Linked DNA regions of Homo sapiens: all the other regions are linked to region 2. Evidence: fine-mapped expression QTL. A gene starts in region 2. Each other region holds a variant in brackets. All regions are shown on one strand. Distances are from middle to middle. Region 1 holds the start of LOC105377519 (a long non-coding RNA gene). Region 2 holds the start of CPE (carboxypeptidase E). Region 3 overlaps LOC105377519 (a long non-coding RNA gene).

Region 1 (6,897 bases), 30 kb before region 2:
TATAGGCGTGAGCCACCGTGCCCAGCTGACAAGAGATACCCTTTGTTTCTTGGATTATCTATTTGGATTTTTACTAATTGTTTAAAAGTTTAGTTAATATTATAATTTAAAAATTAGTAGTAGAGTATGCTTAGAATTATAATTAACTAGTATTTTACTCTTTGCTACATATTTGGCTAACGACATGTAGACCTTTGGACAAGATTGGTTCTGTGGAGACTCTTACCCCAACTTCTAATTCTCATGCTCTTACATAAAACCTAGTAGGTTTTTTTGTTTTGTTTTGTTTTAGATAGAGTCTTGCTCTGTCGCCCAGGCTGGAGTGCAGTGGCACAATCTCGGCTTACTGCAACCTCGCAACCTCCACCTCCCGGGTTCAAGCGATTCTCCTGCCTCAGCCTCCTGAGTACCTGGGATTACAGGTGCCCGCCACCACGCCCAGCTAATTTTTTGTATTTTTTAGTAAAGACGGGGCTTCACCATGTTGGCCAGGCTGGTCTTGAACTCCTGACCTCGTGGTCCGCCCGCCTCAGCCTCCCAAAGTGCTGGGATTACAGGCGTGAGCCACCGTGCTTGGCCTAGTAGGGCTTTTTAATTCCACATTTAAGTTCTGTATTTCCACAGAGAGAGATAGTATCTAAGCTCTTCCTGAAGAGTGAGCACCTTGTTTCTGAAGGTTTAGCTCCTAATCCATTCTTGCAAAAGAATAGAATTTTTCAGCCAATGTTAGAAAGAGTAGCATGCTATTAGTCTAATGAATGCTGTCTCTGCAAGTGACTGCCAAATGTTGACATTCTTACATGAAATCATCAGAGGGCCATGGTAAAATGTCTTTAGTACATATGCTTAGAGGTCTGTTGCATTCTAAAAGTCTAAAGAAAAAGGACATGAATGGCTAGAATCTAAGATAGGAAATGTTACTTTCAAACTATTAGGAAGATAAGTAATTCAACTCAGGGACACAGGCTGCTTATTGTGCACTCACAAAAGGAAAGGGACCATGACGGAATGAGAACATGGGATAACTAACCTGCAAGCTGCGTATAGGATGCTGAAACCAGCACTGCTGGGATAGTAACAGGAGAGATTGCCATGTATGCCCTGCCAGCCGGTCTTGCTCCCTTGCATTATGAAGCTCCTTGGCTCCTGGTGATTGGCTCACTCCCTGGAAAGCCTTTCCCCCTCCTCTCTCTGGAGAGCTATTTCCTCATCTATGAAATGAGGATAATAATACTTCATGGGCGGTTTGTGAGGATTCAGTAAGATGCACCATGTGAAGTATGCGATGCGTGTAATGAATGTTAGCTATTTTTTTTAAATTCCCTCCCTTTATTTAAAGATCCGGTTCAAGACTCACCGCACCACTCCATCAGCCCCACTCTTCTTTCTGAGGTCTTATTTCTGCTTCAGATTAGAGAAATCTCTCCCACTCTCCCTCACTCAGAGTTCTGTAACACTCATCTCTACCACCTCTCAGCATACGCCACCTTGTGTTTTCTGCTTCAGACAGAGATTGGAAGATATTTTTGAAGAAACTGAACCCAACCCACAGAAAAATACATCCAAAGTTTGAAAAGATTGACTTGCTGCCTGATTATTTAAAATGGTTTTACAATCACATTTGCAAATTGTATTGCTACCTCTTTTTTAGCCAAAGATCTCTCTTTTGCACCGTGTGCTTTCGTTCTTCTGCACATTTGCTCATGCCTAACCTTCAGCCAGTGAATGTTATTAACATGGTCAAAGGCACGCGGGTAGTTCATGGCAAAGCTGACTGCAGAGCTGAGATCTTCCCACTGTGTGTATTTTCTCCCTTGGTATGTATACCTGGCACCTTGCCTTGAACATGGTAGGAGTTCAATAAATATCTGTCAATTAAAACGAAGAGAGGACATTGTAATAACATCATAATATAGGAGTGACAATTAAGCTGCCATTTTAGTAATCAGTTCAGAAGGTTTTTAGTAATTAACAGCAAATGATGGGGAAGGAGAAGACAAGGAAAGAAGAGGGTTCTTGAAATACAAGCCAGAGCCAGAACCAGGTGCAGGGGCTGCCGGGTTCAGTTGAAGTCTGGCTACATTCTAATGCTTTGGCATCTTAAAGTTTGATTTCACTGGTCATGTTCTTGTGGGATATGCAGCTTGATATGCTCTTTGAAGGAACAAATTATGTATCAGAGCACGTTCATGTCCGTTTGAGTTCGTGTCCAGCTAATAAAGAAAATTTAGAACTATTTAGTCTGTTGGCAGATTTCAATCAGACCTCTTGTATTCCATGAAGGTTCTCTGAGATTTTTTTTGCTATAAAATAATTCATCTGATAATAATAAAATATCATGATGGTATAGAGGTAGAAGAATAAGGAATTGGTCACTGCCCAGGAGTAGGTAATATACCATTAACATATTAGAATGGGAGGCTGAGCTACCTAATTTTTGCATTTCTATGTCACAGGAAAATGATCTTCAAGTTGGAAAAGGAAACAAACTAGCCCCGTTCAAAGGGAAGCAAATCCCAAAGAGGAGGAAATTTTTAGCAAAGTGTTTCATACATTTTAATAAACTTTTTTTTTTTTTTCGAGATGGAGTCTCGCTCTGTCACCCAGGCTGGAGTGCAGTGGCGCTATCTCGGCTCACTGCAACCTCCGCCTCCTGGGCTTAAGCAATTCTTCTGCCTCAGCTTCCCGAGTAGCTGGGACTACAGGTGTGTGCCACCATGCCTGGCTAATTTTTTGTATTTTTAGTGGAGATAGGGTTTCATCGTGTTAGCTAGGATGGTCTTGATCTCCTGACCTCGTGATCCACCCACCTCGGCCTCCCAAAGTCCTGGGATTACAGGTGTGAGCCACCGCGCCTGTCCTTAAATAAACTTTTAAGTCTCCAAAGTCAGATAACTTGCATTCCAGGTGACAGAAAGAATTTGTAAATGTGATTGTAAAGCCATAGATGATCAGGCAGCCAGTCAATCTTTTCCAACTTTGTTAAGTATTTTTCTGTGGGTT[T/C]GGTTCAGTTTCTTCAAAAAAATCTTCTAATCACTGTCTGGGGCAGAAACTGCTCATATGTCTTCATGCTGGGAATCACATATGTGGGAGGAGACAGGATCTGACAGTTGAGTGGGTTCCCTTTCACAGAATCCCTCTTCTGCCACCTGCCTAGCTCACCCAAGGCCTCCTCAGCATCAGGAGAGTCTTGAGCCTCTTCTGTTCCATTTCTCCAAAGAATAAATCTGCCCCTTGGGAAGTGTGGCTCTACAGAGTTGGAAAAGGGACCTGTGGCCTAAAGGCTTTGTAATAGAGTTTTGAAGTGAAATTGAAATGCTGGCTTTTAGTATTACACAATACCAGGGTATTTAATTTTTAATGGAACCACACCATACAAACACACCAGAAAAGCACACAGCTTGATGAATGGTTACATCCATTTGATCACTACACAATCAAGAGCGTGACTACTTCCTTTGTCAATTGTCCACTTTGGACCAGAAATGTAGTTAGAGTCTTACCTGGTTCAGCAAGTGAATCCAAATTCTCTTGACCAAGGAGAGTTTCTAGTGTTGTGACTTGAGGCTTTGCCTGTAGCCTTGTCCTGTTAAACATGTTTATCATTGACCTAGATAAGGCCACTGCTGCCAAGCTTATCAAATTTAATACTGAGGCAGAAGAAAAACAGCAACTGACACTTTGTTCTACAGGACAGAATCAAGATCCTGCAAAATGTTTGCCTTGATTTAAAAGTTCAGCTGCACAAATGGAGGAGAGGAAACATAACCAGGATTAACAGCGATACATACCCAAGAGCCGTAAGGATTTTAGTGGACTACAAGTGCTCACTTCCCCACAACTTAAGACAACCGTACGCTAAATTATTAAAGGTAAGCCTAAATTACAGAGAAGACAGTGATCTCCTTTTATTCTGCTTTGGTTGGTTACGGGTGGAAAAGCATATTATGCTTAGTGCATCATATATGACTAACATCCACAGGAGACAAGAGAGTAATCAGGATTTTTGTTGTTATTTTGTGTTTGTTTTTGTTTCTGAGACAGAGTCTCACTGTATTGCTCAGGCTGGAGTGCAGCGGTGTTATCTCAGCTCACTGCAACCTCCACCTCCTGGGTTCCAGTGATTTTCATATCTCAGTCCCCCAAGTAGCTGGGACTACAGGCACACACCCTCACACTCAGCTAATTTTTGTATTTTTAGTAGAGACAGGGTTTTGCCATGTTGTCCAGACAAGTCTTGAACTCCTGGCCTCAAGTGATCCACCCACTTTAGCCTTCCAATGTGCTGGGATTACAGTCATGAGCCACTGTGTCCAGCAAGGAATTGCTTAAGGTCTAGCAGTAATTACACAAGATAATTTAAGGAAACAGAGGGATAGTCTAGAGCAGCTCTGTCCAGTACAGTAGTCATGAGCTGATGTGGCCATTGACATCTCTGAGTACAGATTATAGAACATTTCCATCATTACAGAAAGTTCCATTAGACAGAACTGGTCAGAGAAAAGAGGACTAAATAGAAATATCAAAGGTGTGTTCAAATGTCTGAAATGATATTATGTAAAAGAGGGTGAGTCATTCATTATTGCCCCAGAAAGCATAAGTGTATCAGGAAATAAAGTTCTAGGTGTTTGCTGTTTAAAAATTCAAACTTTGGAAGAACTTTCTTAAAATTAGAGCTAGTTATCTTCCCCTTCATTGATGGTTTAGGCAGCAACTATAGGATTCTTAGTCAGTATATAACGAAAGAGATCCTTAAAATGAGGATGAATTTCTAAAAATAAATTTTATTTTATTATTTTATTTATTTTGAAACAGAGTCTCGATATGTTGCCCAGAGTACAGTGGCACAATCTTGGCTCACTGCAACCTCCTCCTCCCAGGTTCAAGAGATTCTCCCACCTCAGGCTCATGAGTAGCTAGGACCACAGGCGTGCACCACCACTCCCAGGGCTAATTATTGTATTTTTTAAGTGGAGAAATGGTTTCACCATATTGGTCAGGCTGGTCTCAAACTCCTGACCTCAAGTGATCTACTTGCCTCAGCCTCCCAAAGTGCAGGGATTACAGGCATGAGCCACTGCACTGGGCCTAAAAATGAATTTTAATTGATACATAATAATCATATGTATTTATGGGGTACAGTATGATATTTCATGATATAGTTGTATAGAATGTGTACGATCAAATCAGGGGAATTAGCATATTCATCACCTCAAGCACTTATCATGAAATGAGGATGAATTTGAACTGGATTATATCTCTTTTTTGAGACAGGGTTTCACTCTGTCCTCCAGGCTGGAGTGTAGTGGCATGATCATGGTGGCTGCAGCCTTGAACTCTTGGGCTCAAACAATCCTCCTGCCTCAGTCTCCTGAGTAGCTAGGACTACTGGCATGTGCCACCATGCTCAGATGCTCAGCTAATTTAAAAAAAAATTTTTTTTTTTTTTTTTTTTTTTTAGAGATGTGGTATTGCTATGTTGTTCAAGCTGGTCTCAAACTCCTGGCCTTAAGCTATCCTTCCATCCTGGCCTTCCAAAGTGTTGGAATTACAGGGATGAGCCACCACAGCTAGCCTGAACTGGATTATTTCTAATGATACTTCCAGCTACCATGGTTCTAATGTAGATATTTTAGTTTATTGTTGCAAACATTTTTAAGTAAAGCTTACAAGGTTTTTTTTTGTTGTTGGTGGTGGGAGGTTTTGTTTTGTTTTGTTTTTTGAGATGGAGTCTCGCTCTGTTGCCCAGGCTGGAGTACAGTGGCATGATCTCAGCTCACTGCAACCTGGGTTCAAGCGATCCTCCTGCCTCAGCCTCTCGAGTAGCTGGGGCTACAGGCATGCACCACCATAACTGGCTAGTTTTTGTATTTTTTTTGTATTTTTAGTAGAGATGAGGTTTCATCATGTTGGTCAGGCTGGTCTCAAGCTCCTGACCTCAGATGATCTGCCTGGGTCAGCCTCCCAAAGTGTTGAGATTACAGGAGTAAGCCACCATGCCCAGCCGGAAGCTTTGTTCATTTTTAAAAATTCTTTTGTCTTTGACAGATTGGGTTAATTCAAAAACCTTGTCTTTGAGCTCTGAAGTTCTTTCTTCTGCTTGTTTGATTCTATTGCTGAGACTTTCCGGTACATTTTGCATTTCTCTAAATGTGTTCTTGATTTCCAGAAGTTGTGACTGTTTTTTATTTATGCTATCTATTTCATTAGAGAAATTTCCTTTCATATCCTTTATCACGTTTTTGATTTCATTAAGTTGGACTTCACCTTTCTCTTGTGCCTCCTTGATTGGCTTAATAATCGACCGTCTGAATTCCTTTTCTGGCAATTCAGACATTTAATCTTGGATTGGATCCATTGCTGGTGAGCTGGTATGATCTTTTGGGGGTGTGGAAGACCCTTGTTTTGTCATATTACCAGAATTGTTTTTCTGATTCCTTATTTGGGTAAACTATGTCAGAGGGAGGATCCGAGATTCAAGGGCTGCTGTTCAGATTCTTTTGTCCCACAGTATGCTCCCTTGATGTGGTGTTCTCCCCCTTCCCCTTGGAATGGAGCTTCCTGAGAGCTGAACTGTGGTGACTGTTTGTGACCTCCACCCAGTGGAGCTACCGGGCTCTGGGCTGGTACTGGGGAGCATCTGCAGAGTCCTATGATGTGACTGGTCTTCAGGTCTTTCAGCCGTGGATACCAGCACCTGCTCTGGTTGAGGTAGCAGGGGAGTGAAGTGGACTCTGTTGAAAGTCCTTGCTTGTGTTTTTGTTTAGTGTGCTGGTTTTGTGTTGGTTGGCCTCCAGCCAGGAGGTGGCGCTTTCAAGAACTCATCAGCTGTGGTCCTATAGGGAGGATACGAACTTGCCCTAGGGACACCTGTTTAAGTATTCAGGTTTCTCAGGT
Region 2 (10,909 bases):
CCAAATAATTGGGATTACAGGCATGCACCACCACGCCTGGCTAATTTTGTATTTTTAGTAGAGACGGGTTTTTACCATGTTGGTCAGGCTGGTCTTGAACTCCTTACCTCAGGTGGTCCACCCACCTTGGCCTTGCCAAGTGCCGGGATTATAGGCATGAGCCACCGTGCCCTCCCCTTGAAATATCTTCTAATTTATCCTTTGATTTTTTTCTTCGGCCCAATGGTTATTTAAAAGTGTGATGTTTAATTTCCACATATTTGTGAATTTTCCAGTTTTCCTTTTGTTTTTGATTTCTAGTTTCATTTCATTGTGGTCAGAAAAGATATTTGGTATGATTTCAATCTTAAATTTGTTGAGACTTATTTTATAGCCTAACATGTGATCACATGTGAATTTGACACTGTTCTGCATGCACTTGAGAAGAATGTATTTTGCTGCTATTGAGTGGAATGTTATGTATATGTCTTTTAGGTCCATTTGGTCTATACTGTTGTTCAAGTCTGCTGTTTCCTTTTTGATTTTCTGTCTGAATGTTCTATCAATTATCGAAAGTAGGGTATGAAGTCCCCTATTTTATTGTGTTGCTCTCTACTTTTCCTTCAAGCCTGTCAATGTTTGCTTTATATATTTTGGTGCTCTAATGTTGGGAGCATATATATATTTTTTTTATTATACTTTAAGTTTTAGGGTACATGTGCACAACGTGCAGGTTACTTACATATGTATACATCTGCCATGTTGGTGTGCTGCACCCAGTAACTCGTCATTTAACATTAGGTATATCTCCAAATGCTATCCCTCCACTCTCTCCCCACCCCACAACAGGCCCCAGTGTGTGATGTTCCCTTTCCTGTGTCCATGTGTTCTCATTGTTCAATTCCCACCTATGAGTGAGAACATGCGGTGTTTGGTTTTTTTGTCCTTGCGATAGTTTGCTGAGAATGATGGTTTCCAGCTTCATCCATGTCCCTACAAAGGACAAGAACTCATCATTTTTTATGGCCGCATAGTATTCCATGGTGTATATGTGCCACATTTTTTAATTGTTACGTCTTCTTGATGATTTATCCCTTTCATCATTAAATAATGGGGACCTCCTATGCCAGTTTCTGACTTAAATTCTATTTTATTTGATATGATTATAGTTATCCTTGATCTCTTTTGGTTATCATTTGCATGGAATATCTTTTTTCATCTCTTTACTTTTAGCCTATGTGTATCTTTGATTCTAAAGAATGCCTCCTGCTCACAACATATAATTATTTTTTTAATCCATTCAGCTATTCTACGTACTTTTATTGGAGCATTTAATCCGTTTACATTTACATTATCGATAGGTAAGGATTTACTATTGATATTTTGTCATTTTCTGTTTTGTAGTTCTTTTGTCTCTCTTTTCCTCTGTTGCTGTCTTCCTTTGTGTTTTGCTGATTTTTTTGTAGTGATATGCTTTGATTCCCTTATTTTTTCTTTTGTATGTATGTATTTATTTCTTTTTCTTTATCTATTGTATGTATTTTCTTTATGGTTTCCATGTTTCTTTGTCTCTCTCTTCTCCTTCTGGACACCCATAATCAATATATTTGTTCACTTGGTGGTGTCTGATAATTCCCTTAGACTCTCTTCACTCTTTTTGATTTTCTTTGCTTTTTGCTTCTCTGACTGGATAATCTCAAATGACCTGTCTTGGAGTTGACTAATTCTTCTGTTTGATCAAATCTGCTGTTAAACCCTTATGATGAATTTCTTATTTCAGTTATTGCATTCTTTCACCTCAGAATTTCCATTTGGTTCTTCTTTATCTTTTCTATTTCTTCATAATATTCTCATTTATTTAATGTGTTATTTCCCTCATTTTGTTTAGTTGTCTATCTGGGTTCTCTTGTAACTTGTTGAGCTACTTTAAGATGATCATTTTGAATTCTTTGTCAGACAATTCATAGATCTCCATTTTTTTAGGGCCAGTTGTTGTATATTTATTTTGTTCTTTTGATTGCGTTTTATTTTCCTGTTTCTTCATGTTACTTGTAGCTTTGCATTGATGTCTTTACATGTGACATCCATGTCTTAATGACATGTTCTCCACTCTTAATGAACTGGCTTTGATAGGGAAAGACAGCCCAGATAGAGTTTCTGGGTCTTGTTCCTAGGTCCTGATCCAGGTGTTCAGTCTTTTTCTTTTCTTTTCTTTTTTCTTTTCCTTTCTTTTCTTTTCAGCACTAGCAATCTCTTGCTCCCTCTGGTTCCCATGTCAGTCTCATCTGTGCTCCATATGAGATGAGATAGAAACTAGCTCTTCAGGGAGCTCACTGAAAGGCTCAGGACATTAGAGTCATGATCCACTCCTCCTTCTTTCCTGAAGGAGAGGCCTTAGTTCTATGCCTTCTACAGATCTCTCCGAGCCTTGCCAGCCATGGGAAGGTGCCCATTCTCCTAGCTTTCCCAGGCATCTGGACTATGCCATGTCTTTAAGCACTCTGTAAGAGGCACAACAGAAGCCAGCCCCTTGAGGGGTGTACTGAAAGGCCAGAAATGTTGGATGCTCACCCTACTCTCTATCCCCTGCCCTCCCTACACCAGGAAAGGATTGTAGTCTCTCTGGTGCTGAGTTGTACTCGCAGGTAAAGTGAAATAGCTTTTCTTATCTGTTTCAGTGTGGCTGATTGTGATTTTTTGTTTGTCTGGGGTACTGAAATTTCTTAACTTAATCCTGAACTTCTTATGAAGCTAATTTGTTACTTATATCACTGTTAAATCTGTGTTTCTGTTGGGAAATGAGGGCTGGAACTTCCTATTCTGCTATCTTGCTGACATCACTCTATCCTTGATGTTCTTGAGGTTATTTATGTCTATTGTATCTGTATGGGGGAGATGTATGTATTAGTGGTGGTTCTGGCTCAGAGTCTCTAATGTGGCTGTGGTAAACCTCAGATGTCAGAGATGGAGCCCTCTTGAGGCTCAGGTGGGGCTGAGATCTGCCCCTGCCCACCCACATGGTTGTTGACAGACCTCAGTTCTTAACTGAATGCTAGACCGAGGATGTCAGTTTCTCTCAGGCTGTTTGCCAGATGCCTCAGTTCCTTGCTATATAAGCCTCTCCACAATATGGCAGACAACTTCCCCAAGACAAGCGATGGAGTGATGGGGGACTGGGGGAAGGAAAGGAGGGAGAGAGAGAGGGAGAGGGGGAGGAGAGAGCGCACACACAAGCATGAGAGAGCAATTAAGATGGGAGCTGCAGTCTTTTTAATAACCTAATTTTGGAAGATCATCTCATTACTTTTGCTGTGTTATGTTCATGAGAAAACCACTAAGTCCTGCCTACACTCAGATGGAAGAAATTAAGTTTCATCACTTGCAAAGGAGGAGTATAAAGAATTGTCCCATCACAACACTATATGATGTCATGCTACTGCATATCTCTTCCTAACACTGTATTCAGTGATACAACATTGGTAGTTTGAAATCAGCCATGGTGGGAATATTTAAACCATGGAAATTAGCAAACATTCTAAGTCAGACTTTTCCCCCCAGACAGCTGACATTTACCAGCACACATCAGGATGAATATAGAGCTATGTGTTCACAAAATTTTTATGAAGTAGACGAATTTTAGGAAGGGCTTTGAAAGAAGGAAATAAAATATTATTGATAAAGAAAAAGATAGTTTCTTAATTTAAAGATAATAGAGGTGAAGCAAGAAGTGGAGGGAGACCTAGGGAGTTTAAATATGCTCTTATGGATGCCTATAATGACATGAAGAAAAAGCAGCTCTTTCTTTCTCTTTTTGTTTCTTGTGTGTGCATGTGTGCACATGATTTGAAATGGAGATTGCATACTAAATTTAACTATGTGTACACACATTAAAGACTTGGCATACAAGATTTTTCTTTAATCCAGCAATCAGGATGGGTATATAATCTTTTACATAATTGCCTATGAAGCCACAAACAAGTAATCCATACGCCAGTAAAGTTGATACAGCTGACCTATACCTAAAATAGCTCAGAAATTCAAAGACCAAATTTTAGTTCATTTGAACTGATGCCTTGGTGTATGTAGTACGACCAATAATATGTGAGGAGTGCCACCATTTATCAAATGAGCAGGAATTCACTTCAAAAAGAAAATTTCCAGAATCATAGCATTTTAGGTCTGAAAGAGACAGTGGGAAACCTACAGTACATTATTTCTCAAAATGTCTTTGTCAATCAAACATCAACATCAGAAATGACTGGTCTTCTTTTTAAAACCTAGAAGCTTGTTAATACCTGAAACCCACCCCAGACCTGATGAATTCATAGGGGCTTAAGAATCTGCACATTCTATAAACTCTCTACATGATTCTGTTGCAAGCAAACGTTAGAGAGTGAAAAATCCAAACCTTTTATTTTATAGATTAGGGAAACAAACAACTAAGCTGTAAAAGAGAACCCCCTGCCCAACAAGTGAGACCACATAGTAGGCATGATTTTACACATTACAATTTTTTTTTCTCCAAAATAAAATTTTTTAAATCCAGCAATCAGGGTGGATATATAATCTTTTGTATAATTGCCTATGAAGCCACAAACAAGTAATACATATGCCAGTAAAGTTGGTACAGCTGACCTACACCTAAAAATAGCCCAGAAATTCAAAGACCAAGTTTTCATTCCAAAATTTTTTATTTTGGAGAAAATAGAACGCATATCCTTTGTTCAAAGAGACAGCTAAGGAACAACACAGGACTTCAATGAAAAATATGTTGTTTATGTGTGTAGTTACTAGTCAGTATGCCCCACCTAGCCACAAATTAGTGTGGTTACTCTAAATTGCTAACATGAAAATCTTAACCTCCTACTTCTGAAGTTATTTGGTTTTAGCTACTCAATTTTTTTTTCTAGGCTTCCAAGGTTGCTGTTTTGGGCATGGTTTTAGAAATATAATTATAAGTTTGATTTCAAACTTCTGGACCATGTAATCAAGCACAGACTGGTCATAGTGGAAAATATACAATTTTTAGCTCTGCCTACATTGACAAAAAAAAAAATGGCTGGATCCACATCAATTCAACTTGAGTGCCATGTGTTTACAGTGACAGTTTCTCCCCGAAAACGCAAAAAAAAAAAAAAAAAAAAAAAGAAGATCCATGCTGCTGTAGTATATGTACATAGGGGTGTTTAAAGCCAGCCCCTCCAGCAGCACCTTACCAACCATGTCTGTGCTTTTATTTATTGATCCAATAAGATGACTTAAATATCTAACTCCTTTTCCACGTAAAAGTTTTTATTATGTGCAATGCATTGTTAAACAGGTGAAGAATGAACAAGTTTAGAAAAACAAAGAAGCTTAACATGGAAAATTACCCGCATGGTGTCCACTTTTCCTGCTCGGTTGCAATACCCAATGGATTATTTATTAATTTAGATTTGTGCTGTCCCTGAATCCAAACAGCAGCCTCTTTAGAGTAACATCTGCTCCAGACATTGCTCCAGGAATATAAATCCCGACTAAGGGGTGGATATTTAAAGCTGTAAATGATTTTTTATTTTTACAATAGCTTTGCAAAAGGAACGGAGGTGTCATGTCATCATCAGAGTTTTCTTAACAGGATTTAATCTTAATGCCAAACTAAATCCTTTGTCTAAAGCATCAGCAGAGTTGTACTTATTTTCCCCATAGTATTAAAGAGGAGGGCTGGTGCAGGCACAGCCATATGACATTGCCTTATTTATTTTGTCTGTTTGTTTTCTGGAAGAATCTAGGAATGTGCATAAATACAATTAAGGACAGTATCTACAAATTGGAAGAAAGCATTTCTATTCTCTTAAACCTCTAAATCAAAGCACTTAATGTTCTGATTTCCAGCAAGACCTTCTAATAAATGAAAACCCAACCCTTGGGTTTGTGTTTTGACTCTTGATACAATTATGAAAGACGCATCAGGAGATGGCAAGTGGCTGCCAGTACTTCCTTTTTTCTGGAATATTCTCTAATTCTTGGTGGATCAAGATGGAAACTGGTAGGCTTGGAATAGATGTCCCTTTAAAAGGCTCCACTAACAATACAAGAATATTTTTTCCATACGCAGTGACGTGGGTGGGTCATGGGTGTCTCAATGACAGTAACGTTCCCGAACCCCGGACCTTAGCTGTCATTTCACCTGCGTCGTCCCGGACGCCATTTGGCTGTTGACGTGGTTCCGAGCCAGCAAATAACGCCAGCAGCCCTCCCAGATCCACGCCGGCCCGTCTCTCCGCCGGCCCCCTCCTCGCAGTGGTTTCTCCTGCAGCTCCCCTGGGCTCCGCGGCCAGTAGTGCAGCCCGTGGAGCCGCGGCTTTGCCCGTCTCCTCTGGGTGGCCCCAGTGCGCGGGCTGACACTCATTCAGCCGGGGAAGGTGAGGCGAGTAGAGGCTGGTGCGGAACTTGCCGCCCCCAGCAGCGCCGGCGGGCTAAGCCCAGGGCCGGGCAGACAAAAGAGGCCGCCCGCGTAGGAAGGCACGGCCGGCGGCGGCGGAGCGCAGCGATGGCCGGGCGAGGGGGCAGCGCGCTGCTGGCTCTGTGCGGGGCACTGGCTGCCTGCGGGTGGCTCCTGGGCGCCGAAGCCCAGGAGCCCGGGGCGCCCGCGGCGGGCATGAGGCGGCGCCGGCGGCTGCAGCAAGAGGACGGCATCTCCTTCGAGTACCACCGCTACCCCGAGCTGCGCGAGGCGCTCGTGTCCGTGTGGCTGCAGTGCACCGCCATCAGCAGGATTTACACGGTGGGGCGCAGCTTCGAGGGCCGGGAGCTCCTGGTCATCGAGCTGTCCGACAACCCTGGCGTCCATGAGCCTGGTAAGGGCGCTGCCCCCTGACAGCCCTGGGGGCATCCCGGAGGGGGGCGGCAGAGGGTGGGACTGGTGGCGGTGGGGGAAGGAGGGAGGGATGGGCCCAGGGGTGCCTCTTGGTAAAAGGTATCTAAGGTGGAAGGTGGGAAGTGGAGGGAGGGATGGAAATGGGGAAGAACCCGACTTAGAGCGCCAGTGGCCCAATTTCTGCTTTCCCGTCCCATCCCCCCAGCACCAATCCCATCTCCCCAGACCTTAGGCCACCCTCTAGTAAGTATAGGCTTGGGAGGCTGGGGTGGCGGGGGATGGGGGGGATAGCAATACAGAAAAAACAAATCCTGACGCACGCAACCCCAGCGGTCGCTCTCACTTTGCTGTGTGAAAAACCCAAAGGAATGATTGCGAGTCCCCCGCAAGGGGGGTTGGTCTTCCTTGCTGACAAGAGTAGAAAGATAAGGTGCAGAAGGCAGTGATTGAGAGGAAAGGAGAACGAGGGAGAAAGAGTCATTTATCATGTTTTCTCTAATTTCCAGAGGACCAGTTTATTGGCTCTGTGTACCCATCTCTACCTGTGTGTGTATACGTATTAGGTACACTCGCTGCTGTGGATGCTTGGGGAATCTTAGGGATATTGCCAATCTGGGGTGGTGGTGTATAAAGATACGTTGGTGCCCCTCCTCCTACCAGGGTGAAAAGTGGTTTCTGACTTTTGAAACCAGATTTTGAAACTGCACAAGGCCTTTCCAAGGAAAAAGGAGTATTCCATTTTCTCTGCTATAACCATTTGAGATGAATAGTTTGTGATGGGGTCTTTATTCCAACTGATGTTCCCAAATAACCATCTGTATTCGTCTTTCCTAGGAGTATATTAAAGCACCTTTTGGTTTATGTTAATTGTGATGCATTTAGTATTAATAAAGAGGTATTTAAAAATGTTCTTGGGACTTTTTTCGTTATGTTTCTGCTTAGGAAATAATTTGGGCCTGGTCTTCTGATAATCAAGGTACAGCTAAAGTAATCTGTGCTAATAATATCAGCATGGGATGGATGCTTAATTTTTGTTTAATGACAAAGCAAGCAAGAAAAGTAGGCTAAAAATTCTCAGTGCAGGGCCAGTATAGTTTTATAATGATACGTAAGAACCAAACTGAGAAGAGATTAAAATAAGTGATCAATAGACATTTTGATCTTCAAATATATAGTAGGTGGGTTGATCAAGAATAAATCTTCAGGAAATATTTCTTACCTTCAAATAATATAAGAAAAAAAGGTTCATGTAAGTTTGCTGTCAAAATTCTAAGATCAGATCCTAGAAAACATTTAATATTAACTACTCTTATCTACCAGGATTCAGCATGTAGGATTGGACATTTTGAAACTTAGTTTCATACTGTTATCTGAAGACAGGGAAAAATTTAAAATGTGATAACTGATTTTCAGCTAAATCCAATAACCAAAGCCAAGATATCCTAGGCACAGTTAAAGCTAATGTAAGTATTTGTGAGTCTCCTGCTGCTTACTTAATGAGAACCCTTTGTTACTCTATTTTGTAGATTGATCCCAGAGTTTTTTGCGTTGTTACTTCAAGAGATTATATGAAAGCTAATGTTTAACTTTTTGTTGTTTCAAATTTGGAAATAAAATTTTAAAGTGATATTACAGTTAGAATGTGATATGCTTTAGAAAATGAAAACAATGATTTCTTTGCTTAAGTATCTGGAATATATAGTTCATCAAGGTTTGCAAATCCTTCTTTTAGATTGCAAGCTGTATGAAGTGGGGACCCTGATTCCAGCACCCAGCTCATGTTTGGCACACAGCGGGCTTGAATATACATTATGAAATAATCTACATTATGGAAAAATACTGAATATGCAGTGTGGAAAAAATGAATCCATCAATAGCTGCATAACACAGTGTATTAAAATAAAATGTTTTATTCTTCATACATTCAAAATACGTTGATTGAATTCCTCTTACAGAGACAAACTCGGAAGTGTTGTACAATATGTACTTTACAATTCCTTTTTAAATGAAGGAGACTCTAAGTCTATGGTATTACTAATAGAATACAAAATGTCTGTGTCCCTTATATTTTTAAAAGTAGAAATAAACTATTATAAACCAACACTAACAAAAGTACAAGGTGATATCCCCCTCCATCACCTTTTATGAGCGTCAAGGAGGTTAGAGATCTTCAGGAAACTAGTAAATATAGAGATCTGATCAGTATACAAGTTTGATGGTGCTTGTGTGAATTAACTTTAAGGAAGTTTGGAAAAAGGAAAATGTTCACCATTCTTAAATGGCCTTTCAGTTTCTTTTAGGTTAAACTATTTTAAGAAGTAAAAAGGAATACTTATTCTGAGGTACAAGTGGGCTCATTCAGTGTTTTTTTTGAGCACCTGTATACTCAAGGTGGACCAGGCGTCTGTGAGTTGTGCCTCTGCACAACCCATAGAAGATAACACAGAAGATAGTCGCTTGCCCTGAGGGCAATAGAGAATTGGGAGCTTGAAGAACAGCATAAAGGGATGTGAGGCTGCAAGATCGGCTTTGGGAGGACTGGAGAAAAAGACAGTAAGGTCAGCAGGTCAGGGAGACTGGATTATTGAAGAATTGATGACAAAAGACAGTAGGTCAGCAGGTCAGGGAGACTGGATTATTGAAGAATTGATGACAAAAGACAGTAGGTCAGCAGGTCAGGGAGACTGGATTATTGAAGAATTGATGACAAAAGACAGGAAATGTACAGTTTGTTGACATTTACAAATTCCAAAATAGCTGGTATAGATATCTGTCTTCACTAGGACCCCTGCTTTTGAAAAAGGGCCAATTGTCTTTACTATTTTCACCTTTTAAGTACCTTATTTTTTGGTTTGAAATAACCTTTCTGATTCAGCTTTAGGAAATAATATTGAACTTAAGAAATGTGTTTACTTGACTGAAATTTTGAGGTGAAATTGCTCACTTTTGTTTTATTTTCCAGCAAGAGAGGTGTCAGATTTGTTGATTAGTTTTCTTAATCTAGATTCTTTTCCTGAACATTAAAAAAACAGTGGATTTCTAAGGATTTAGTTGTCGTAACAGAAGAACTCCAAGAAAATACAACAACATACCCACAAAAAGCCCTTTCTTGTGGTAGAATAAGCAAGCTAGAGGTTTACTTTGTTAGACTAGCAGTTTTTGGACAGAGATGTTTGTTGATACAATTAGCTCTCTTCCTGAGCAGAAAGAAGTGATCTTTATACATGCTTGGTACAGGACATGGGGTGTAGTTGAGGTTATCTCCTGAAAATGACTTTCTTTGCAAGATGTTCAACTTTTGAATTCATCAAAAGGCAAAGCAAATTCCATTTTGAATTGGTCATTGAGGAATAGCCAAACCTATTCTGTGATGACATCTTAGGAATCAGCTTGATTGTTGACCAGCTGAATGTTGGGTCTCAGTCATCATTTTGTATCACTTCTGAGGTCTGCAAAAATCTATTGAAAGAGAGTTGCGAGTAGCAGCCAATTTCAATAAGCAGAATCACAAATGGTCCTGTCATTGGTCTCATCTTTTCAGACATTGTTAAGTCTGGACCCCAGATGGGTTTCCTCTACACTGGGAGTTAGTGTTTGTGGCCCATTTGGAACTGGGATGAAGAATGGGCTTAGACTAGGCTAGGGGCTGATTCTAAGTGCTCAAATATGTCCCCATTAGATATCATACCTGCTAGGCATGATCATTTTTCCCGTTTTTCTTTCCTTTTACTTAGATTTTATACTTTTTTCTTATTTCCATGCTTAAGGACTCACGTATTCAAACCCAAACATATGCCTTCCTAGGCATGTATATCCATCATCGAAATACAGTACTCATAAAAGAAACCTTTATTAACTTATGTCTAAGTAATGGATTCTGTGTTCCCAGACCACTCGACCCGGAGTTAAATATGAGTTAAGATTAATTTGCTTAAAACACTATTTCTTTTACACGTAGTTCAAGATAGCTTTTGGGAAGTAAATCTGATTTATAGCTAAAACGCTATCTCAAAAACATTCTTTAGAGCAGGATTTTTCTTTCTCAAAGGCTGGAATGATTATTTTGGACGT
Region 3 (8,175 bases), 22 kb before region 2:
CAAGCTAGTCCTGCTTCCTATTCACCATCTTAATACATTCTTATTACTCAATAAAATACTTTTGATATACATTTAACAGAGAAAGTGAAAGTCTTACACAATGAAAACTACAAATATTGTTGAAAGAAATTAAAGCAGATCTAAGTAAATGCAAAGACATTTTTATGGATGAGAAAACTTAATATTGTGAAGATGACAATACTTCCCAAATTTATCTGCAAATTCAATGCAATCTCTATCAAAATCCAAGCTGCCTTTTTGTAGCAAATTACAAGCCAACCTTAAAATATATATGGAAATTCAGTAGACTCAAAATAGTCAAAACAATCTTGAAAAAGAAGAACAATTTAGAAGACTCATATTTCCCAATTTCAAAACTTACTACAAAGTTACAGTAAGCAGACAGCGTGGTTTTGGCATAAGGGTAGACATATAAAAATGGCGTAGGTTTGAACTTCAGATGTAAACCCTGATAGTGATGGCAATAGATTTTAACAGTGTTCCAAGATAATTTAAGGAGTAAAGAACAGTATTTTCAACAAATAGTGAAGGAACAACTGGACATCTACATGCAAAAGGATGACATTATAGATCTACCTCACTCCATACACAAAAAAGTAACTCAGATGATAGCACTAAATGTAAAAGCAAAATTGATAACCCTCTTAGAAGGAAGTGAAGGAGTTGCCTTGGATTAGCAATGATCCCTTATTTATGACCCCAAAAATACAAGCAACAAAATAAAATGATGAATACAATGGACTATGTGAAGAATTTTGTGCTGCAAATGATACCATCAAGAAACTGAAGACAATACACAGAATGGGAGAAAATATTTGCACATCCTATATCTGATAAAGAATTTGTGTCCATAATATATAAAGAACTCAAACTCAATAATAACAACAAGAGATAACCCAATTCTCAGCAAACTAACACAGGAACAGAAAACCAAACACCACATGCTCTCACTCATAAGTGGGAGCTGAAGAATGAGAAAACATGGACACAGAGAGGGGAACATCACACACTGGGGCCTGTTGGGGGGTTGGGGAACAAGGGGAGGGAGAGCATTAGGACAAAGACCTAATGCATGCGGTGCTTAAAACCTAGATGATGGGTTGATAGGTGCAGCAAACCACCATGGCGCATATATACTTATGTAACAAACCTGCACATTCTGCACATGTATCTCAGAGCTTAAAGTAAAACTTAAAAAAAAAAAAAGATTTGAATAGACATTTCTCCAAAGAAAATATACAAACAGCCAGCCAGGCACAGTGGCTCACGCCTATAATCCCAGAACTTTGGGAGGCTGAGGCAGGTGGATCACAAGGTCAGGAGATCGAGACCAGCCTGGCCAATATGGTGAAACCCCATCTCTACTAAAAATACAAAAAGTTAGCTGGGTGTGGTGGCAGGCACCTGTAGTCCCAGCTACTCAGGAGGCTGAGGCAGGAGAATTGCTTGAACCCAGGAGGTGGAGATTGCAGTAAGCCAAGATTGTGCCACTGCACTCCAGCCTGGGCAACAGAGCGAGACTCCATCTCAAAAAAAAAAAGAAAATATACAAACAGCCAACAGCCAATATGTACATTAAAAGTTGCTCAACATCATTACTCTTTAGGGAAACACAAGCCCAAACCACAATGAGATGTTACTTCACACCCATGATAATGGCTGTAATATAAAAGATAAGCAATAGCAAGTGTTGGAAAGGATGTGGGGAAGTTGGAACCTTTCTATGTTGCTGGCGGGAATGTTAGATGGTGCAGCTGCTTTGAAATGAGTTTGGCGGTTCATCAAAATATTAAACATAGAGTTACCATAGGACCCAGCAATTCCACTCCTAGGTATATACCCAAGAGAAATGAAAATGTATGTGAACACAAAAATTGTACATGAATGTTCATAGTAGCATTATTCATAATAGCAACAAGAGGAAACACTCCAAATGTCTATCATCTAATCCAGTGGTCCCCAATCTTTTTGGCCCCAGGGACCGGTTTCATGGCAGACAATTTTTTCACAGACGGGGTGGGGGTTGGTGGTTTTGGGATGAAACTGTTCCACCTCAGATCATCAGACATTAGATTTTCATAAGGAGCACACAACCTAGATCCCTTGCATGTGCAGTTCACAGTAGGGTTTGCGCTCCTGTGAGACTCTAATGCCACCACTGATCTGACAGGAGGTGCAGCGCAGGTGGTAATGCTCACTCACCCACCACTCACCTCCTGCTGTGTGACCTGGTTCCTAACAGGCCATGATGGGTACTGGTCCACAGCCCGGGGATTGGGAACCCTTGAACTAATGAATGAATTAAAAAATATGGAATACTCATACAATGGCATGTCATTCAGCCATAAAATGAATACAGTACTGATTCATGCTACAGCACGAATGACCCTTGAATATACTATGAGAAAGAAGTCAGTCACAAAAGACCATATATTATATATATGATACCATTTATATAAATTATTCAAAAGAGATAAATTTATAGGCACAGAAAGTGGATTTGCGGTTGCTTAGGGCTGGGGGTTGGGGCTTAGGAGGGAAGAATAGGGACTGACTGCTTATCCACTAGCAGGTTTCTTTTAGGGGAGCTAAACATGTTCTAAAATTAGATTGTGGTGATGGTGGCATGGCCCTATGAATATACTAAAAGACATTGAATTGTATACTTTAAAAGGGCAAATTGCATGGTACATGAATTATTCCTCAATAAAGCTGTTTAAAAAACAAAAAGGCAAACAGTTAGCAGTGTATTAGTTTGTTAGGGCTGCCATAACAATAAGCAACAACCTGGATGGCTTAAACAAGAGAAATGTATCGTCTCACAGTTCTGGAAGCCAAAAGTGAGATCAAGGTGTCAGCAGGGTTAGCTCCTTCTCAAGTCTCTGAGGGAAAATCTTTTTCATGCCTCCCTCCTAGCTTCTATATTTCTTTTTCCATTCCTTTTTTTTTTTTTTTTTTTGAGAAAGAGTTTTGCTCTTGTTGCCCAGGCTGGAGTGCAATGGCATGATCTCCGTTCACTGAAATCTCTGCCTCCTGGTTTCAAGTGATTCTCCTGCCTCAGCCTCCTGAGTAGCTGGGATTACAGGCGCCTGCCACCATGCCCAGCTAATTTTTATAGTTTTAGGAGAGATGGGGTTACATCATGATGGCCAGGCTGGTCTCAAACTCCTGACTTCAGGTGATTCACCCACCTTGGCCTCCCAAAGGGTTGGGATTACAGGCATGAGCCACTGCGCCCGGCCCCTCTTAGCTTCTAATAGTTTGCTGGCATGCCTTTTGCATTTCTTGGCTTGTAGATGCATTACCCCGGTCTCTGCCTTCATGTTCACACCGTATTCTCTCTATGTCTATCTTTCTTTGTGTCCTGATTTCCCATTTTCATAAAAACAACAGTCATATTGACCCACCCGTATTACCTCATCTTAACTCGATCATTTGCAAAGGTCCCTTTTCCAAATAAGATCACATTCACAGAGAGTGGGGGTTGGAGTTAGGACTTCAACATCGTTTTGGGAGACACGATTCAGCCTATAACAAACAATATGGACATGATTTCCTTAATTGTAAGATCAGAGATGCTAGAATAATGCTTACTTACAAATAGCTCATCCCATTCTCTAAGACTGTAATACAGAAGGAAGATTTTTTTTTCTATCTCTTCTTAGCTTGAACACTTATCTGGAAGGCAATGTGATTTTCTGAGACAGGCAAAGACATTGCATAATAATTCTGTGTCCTCAATGACCTTAAAAGTCATTTAGTTTAGTTATCTACTCAGAGTTTGAATCTCCTTCCTGTGACAGACAGACTATTTTTTTTTTTTAAGGGGGCTGTGAGCTGAGACCACTGGAGAGCAAATTCAGCATTTGGCAATAGTTCACTCACCAGCTGGTGGCAGTATTTTGCTTGAAGCTGTGAGGCCC[G/A]AAGACTGAGCACAGGAACTACTTAGACCTCAGTGTGGAGTCAAACTCTGCCATTTACTGTGTGACTTACTTGTGTGCCCTTAGACACGTCACTCAAGTGAATCTCTGTTTCCTTGTACATAAAATGGGAATAATGATGCTCCTCTTGCAAACTTTTAAGAATGAAACACAGCCATAAAGAAAAACACACCAAACAGCAGAGTGCCCAACTCATATCAGAAACAACAGCAACAAAAAACCAACAAATTTTTAAAAAAGCAAATGATGCTTAATTTTCTGAATTACTTAATTAGTATTTTAAAAATAGACTGCCAGCCAGTTGGACCCAAGAATATGGAAAATCTGAGAACCAGTGCAGATCTTTTTCACTGGAAACTATTATTTTCCCATGCACACACTGATTATTACAGGTTTGCCAATTTTTTTCCTGTAAAATGTGATGGGTAGATATATGCAATATATAAAAATAATTTGATATAACTACCAAATATATGTTTAAACTTAAAATATCCATTAGTTCACAGTATACAACTTTTAATGGTTGTGTTAAGAACAAAAACTTTTACATTTTTTCAATTTGGGAATTTTACATTAAAATGATTTTTATCAGCTATTTTATCAGTTTTTTCTGATTTTCATTCAAATGAATAATCTCTTATCATGTAACATCTGTTATAACACCTCAAAAACAAGAGTGATTTTCCTGCTGTGAGGAGTGCTGTGCTGGATGGAAAGCATAAATAACCCGGGACTAAGTGGTTCAGCTGACTTTTCCCCCCAGACAATTTAGGTTACCCAAATGAATGATCTTTTCATGGTTTTGTTTTTTCATTCTATTCCAGTTTATTTTTACCTTTTTTTTTTTTTTTTTTTTTTGAGAGAGTGTCACTCTGTCACCCAGGCTGGAGTCCAGTGGTGTGGTCTTGGCTCACTACAACCTCTGCCTCTTGGGTTCAAGTGATTCTTCTGCCTCAGCCTCCTGAGTAGCTGGGATTACAGCATGTGCCACCATACCCAGATAATTTCTGTATTTTTAGTAGAGACAGGGTTTCCCCACATTGGCCAGGCTGATCTCGAATTCCTGACATCAAGTGATCTGCCTGCCTCTGCCTCCCAAAGCTCTGGGATTACAGGCTTGAGCCACCATCTCCGGTCTATTTTTACCATTTAATCAAGGGTTTTCTCTAGCCATCCCTGGGTTCTGCACAAAACTCACATATTAGAAAGCGTTCCTCAGACAAGACTATGAAGACTAAGAATTATTCTCGAATGTGCTAGTTCAGGGCAGTGGGGATGAGCAACAGGATGGCAACAGTATTCTGAGAACTGGCTATTGAGAAAATTCCTTTTTAATAGGGCAGCATGCCTGCTTTACAGCTTTCATTCTTTACTGAAGAGTCCCAGACTAAGAAATCAGCAGTGATTAACATCTAATCCTGGCCACCGGGTGTTAGGGGAAAGTGGTTGTCCTTCAGAAACAAGGAGCCAATTAGAAATAAGTCATGAAGCATTTTCTTGGTCTTACTGAAATAGTGAATCTCCTTCCCTCCCTCCCTCCCTCCCTGCCTCTCTCCTTCTTCCCTTCCCTTTTTTGAAAGAGAGTCTTGCTCTGTCACCCAGGCTGGAGTGCAGTGGCGTGGTCTTGGCTCACTGCAACCTCTGCCTCTTGGTTTCAAGTGATTCTTCTGCCTCAGCCTCCCGAGTAGCTGGGATTACAGGCATTGCCTTCCCTTCCCTTCCCTTCCCTTCCCTTCCCTTCCCTTCCCTTCCCTTCCCTTCCCTTCCCTTCCCTTCTTATTTAAGCCATTTAAATTTAGTTTAGTTGCAATAAACCAAGTCTAATTCATCTACTCAGGACTTCGAAGTCAGTACTGTTGCATTCCAGGTTTCTTTGGTTACAACCTGTATCTCCATATAAACTGGCAGGAGTAGGTAGTGGTGATGGGTTCTTCATCAAGCCCAGCAACATTGCTCTCATACCTGCATTAAGCCACAACCATCAACTGTTTCCCGCAATTATGGAAGGAGTTGCAGCTTAATGAGTGTAGATTTTGAGCAAGTTATTTTTGAATTGTTGAGGTTCGACTTAAATAGCAGCATATCAGATGTCAACTGAGGAGCATAGCTTGATCTCTAAGAATTTATGTATTCATTCATTCAATCAATAATATTTACTTAGTTTTCCATTATGTGTCAAATGCTGCTAGGTGCTAGGGTACACTAGGGGCCTTGAGAGACAAGATTCCAGCCCTCGCACAATTTATAGTACAGGGGAGATTATGGACAATGAAATAAGTAATTATTAAAAACCTCTGAAACGTGAGAGAGGCTTAAGGAACTCTGAGATCACATAGCAACAGTATCTTTTTTGCTTAATGGAAGCTGTTAGGACAAAGCTCCCAGAGGAAATAATGTGTACCATGAGACCAGAAGGACAACTAAAAGCTAACCAGAAATGAAGGGGGACAGAGGGGAAGAGTGATTCAAGTAAAGGCAACAAAATATGCTAAGATCTGCTGGCAAGACAGAGAATAGAATAAACCAGATACTGAAAGAAGATTGTATGATTGGAGAGGATGCAGAGATGGCGGGACAAGTTGGAGAAATGTGCAAAGCTAGGTCATTATGTGCTTTGGAGTTTGTTTCTGAAGCTTTTTAGACAAGGGAGGCTGCCCTGCTGCAATGCTGTGCACAAGAAGCAAGAGAAGTGGAAGGAAGACCATAGAGCTTTGTGGCTTGTTTCCATCAGCAAACCTGTGTGACTAACCCTCACCTGTCCTCTATTTCCTCTCCTGCATAATCCTATCAGTTCAAGGCACCATTTGTGCCATTTATTTGTTTATTTACTTATTTATTGAGACAGGGTCTCTCTCTGTCGCCCAGGCTGGAGTGCAGTGGTGCAATCTCGGGTCACTGCAACCTCCACCTCCTGGGTTCAAGCGATTCTTGTGCCTCAGCCTCCCGAGTAGCTAGAGGTGCACACCACCACGCCTGGCTAATTTTTCTATTTTTTGGTATAGATGGGGTTTCACCATGTTGACCAGGCTAGCCTCGAACTCCTGGCCTCAAGTGATCCACCCACCTCGGCCTCCCGAAGTGTTGGGATTACAGGCGTGAGCCACTGTGCCTCGCCTGTGCCATTTATTTTGATGGTGCTTTTGGCACAGCACTTGTTGGCTGTCTGGACAAGCATGGGTTAGTGGTAGATACCTAGGAGTGGATTTATTAAATCGCTAATGAACTAGCATAGGTATTGGGAGTCAGCCTGAACAAGCTAAGGAGATAAGAAGCTAGTTCCCAGGAAGAGCTAAAACCAAGTTCAAGTAGGGATGGTGGTGGGGTTGTTAGGGTTTCTGCAAGTAGTAAATAAAATATAAGAAAACTCAAGGAGCCAAAATATTGGTTTGCCGAGGCAAGGAAACAGAAAGAACAAGTTAAAAAAATTGAAGCTTGGAAGAATCCTTTATTAAACAATTTTAAGCAATGTGGCAGCCGAACCTAATTTTTTTACCCAACCACACAGTATTAATGACTCATTGTGTTTGGTAACACTTCCTGCCATAAGTGTCCCAAGGAGCTGGGGTGTGGTGTGTTCTGAATCTGTCAATTCATTAATTATTTAACCAATCTAGTTATTGAACATTCATTATACAATTAGTCCTCATTTAATGTCATCAGTAGGTCTTGGAAACTGCAACTTTAAACAAAATGACATATAAAGAAACTAATTTTACCATAAGCTAATTGATATAAACAAGAGTTAAGTTCCTACAGCATACTTCTGGTCATAAAACCACCACGAGCTTCTAAATAAAGACCCCAAACACTTCTAATATTAAACACGGAAAAAATTGTGAGCTATATGTACATTTAGGAAAGATTAATTTTAAAAAGTAAGATTATTTACTTGCTTATTTCACTTCAGGGTCATAGGTGGCTGGAGGCTGTCCCAGCAGCTCAGGACATAATGTGGGAACCCACTGGCCAGGATGCCATTCCATGGCAGGGCACACTCATACACACACCCACACTGGCTCAGACCGGGACAATGTAGACACATCAATCAAATCAACATGCACATCTCTGGGATGTGGGAGGAAACCGGACTACCAAGAGAAAACCCACGTAGACACAGGGAGAACGTGCAAACTCTCCACAGATGTTGGCTGGCTCCAGCTGGAAATCATTTTTCTTTCTCATCAATGTTGGAACAAAATGACATAATTCAAGG

What was found. PIP is the estimated chance that this variant, and not a neighbour inherited with it, causes the effect. A credible set is the group of variants that fine-mapping cannot tell apart.
Region 1: its variant is the best candidate, but not a certain one, in a credible set for the expression of CPE in monocytes (TOPMed, PIP 0.77).
Region 3: its variant is the best candidate, but not a certain one, in a credible set for the expression of CPE in blood mononuclear cells (TOPMed, PIP 0.73).

What each region holds. Positions count from the first base shown.
Region 1 is chr4:165,344,744-165,351,640 of GRCh38, forward strand. It overlaps LOC105377519 (a long non-coding RNA gene), which reads left to right and starts at 3,452. Exons shown (of 3, transcript XR_939416.2): 1 at 3,452-3,872. RefSeq lists a silencer at 1,294-1,588 and an enhancer at 6,705-6,897. The variant T/C (reference allele first, on the strand shown) is at 3,004.
Region 2 is chr4:165,372,711-165,383,619 of GRCh38, forward strand. CPE (carboxypeptidase E) reads left to right here and starts at 6,298. Exons shown (of 9, transcript NM_001873.4): 1 at 6,298-6,818. The coding sequence starts at 6,512. RefSeq lists a silencer at 6,331-6,590 and an enhancer at 8,070-8,614.
Region 3 is chr4:165,352,221-165,360,395 of GRCh38, forward strand. All of the region lies in intron 2 of LOC105377519 (a long non-coding RNA gene), which reads left to right. Among named protein-coding and RNA genes, the nearest start is that of CPE, 23 kb to the right of the region's middle. RefSeq lists an enhancer at 1-427. The variant G/A (reference allele first, on the strand shown) is at 3,945.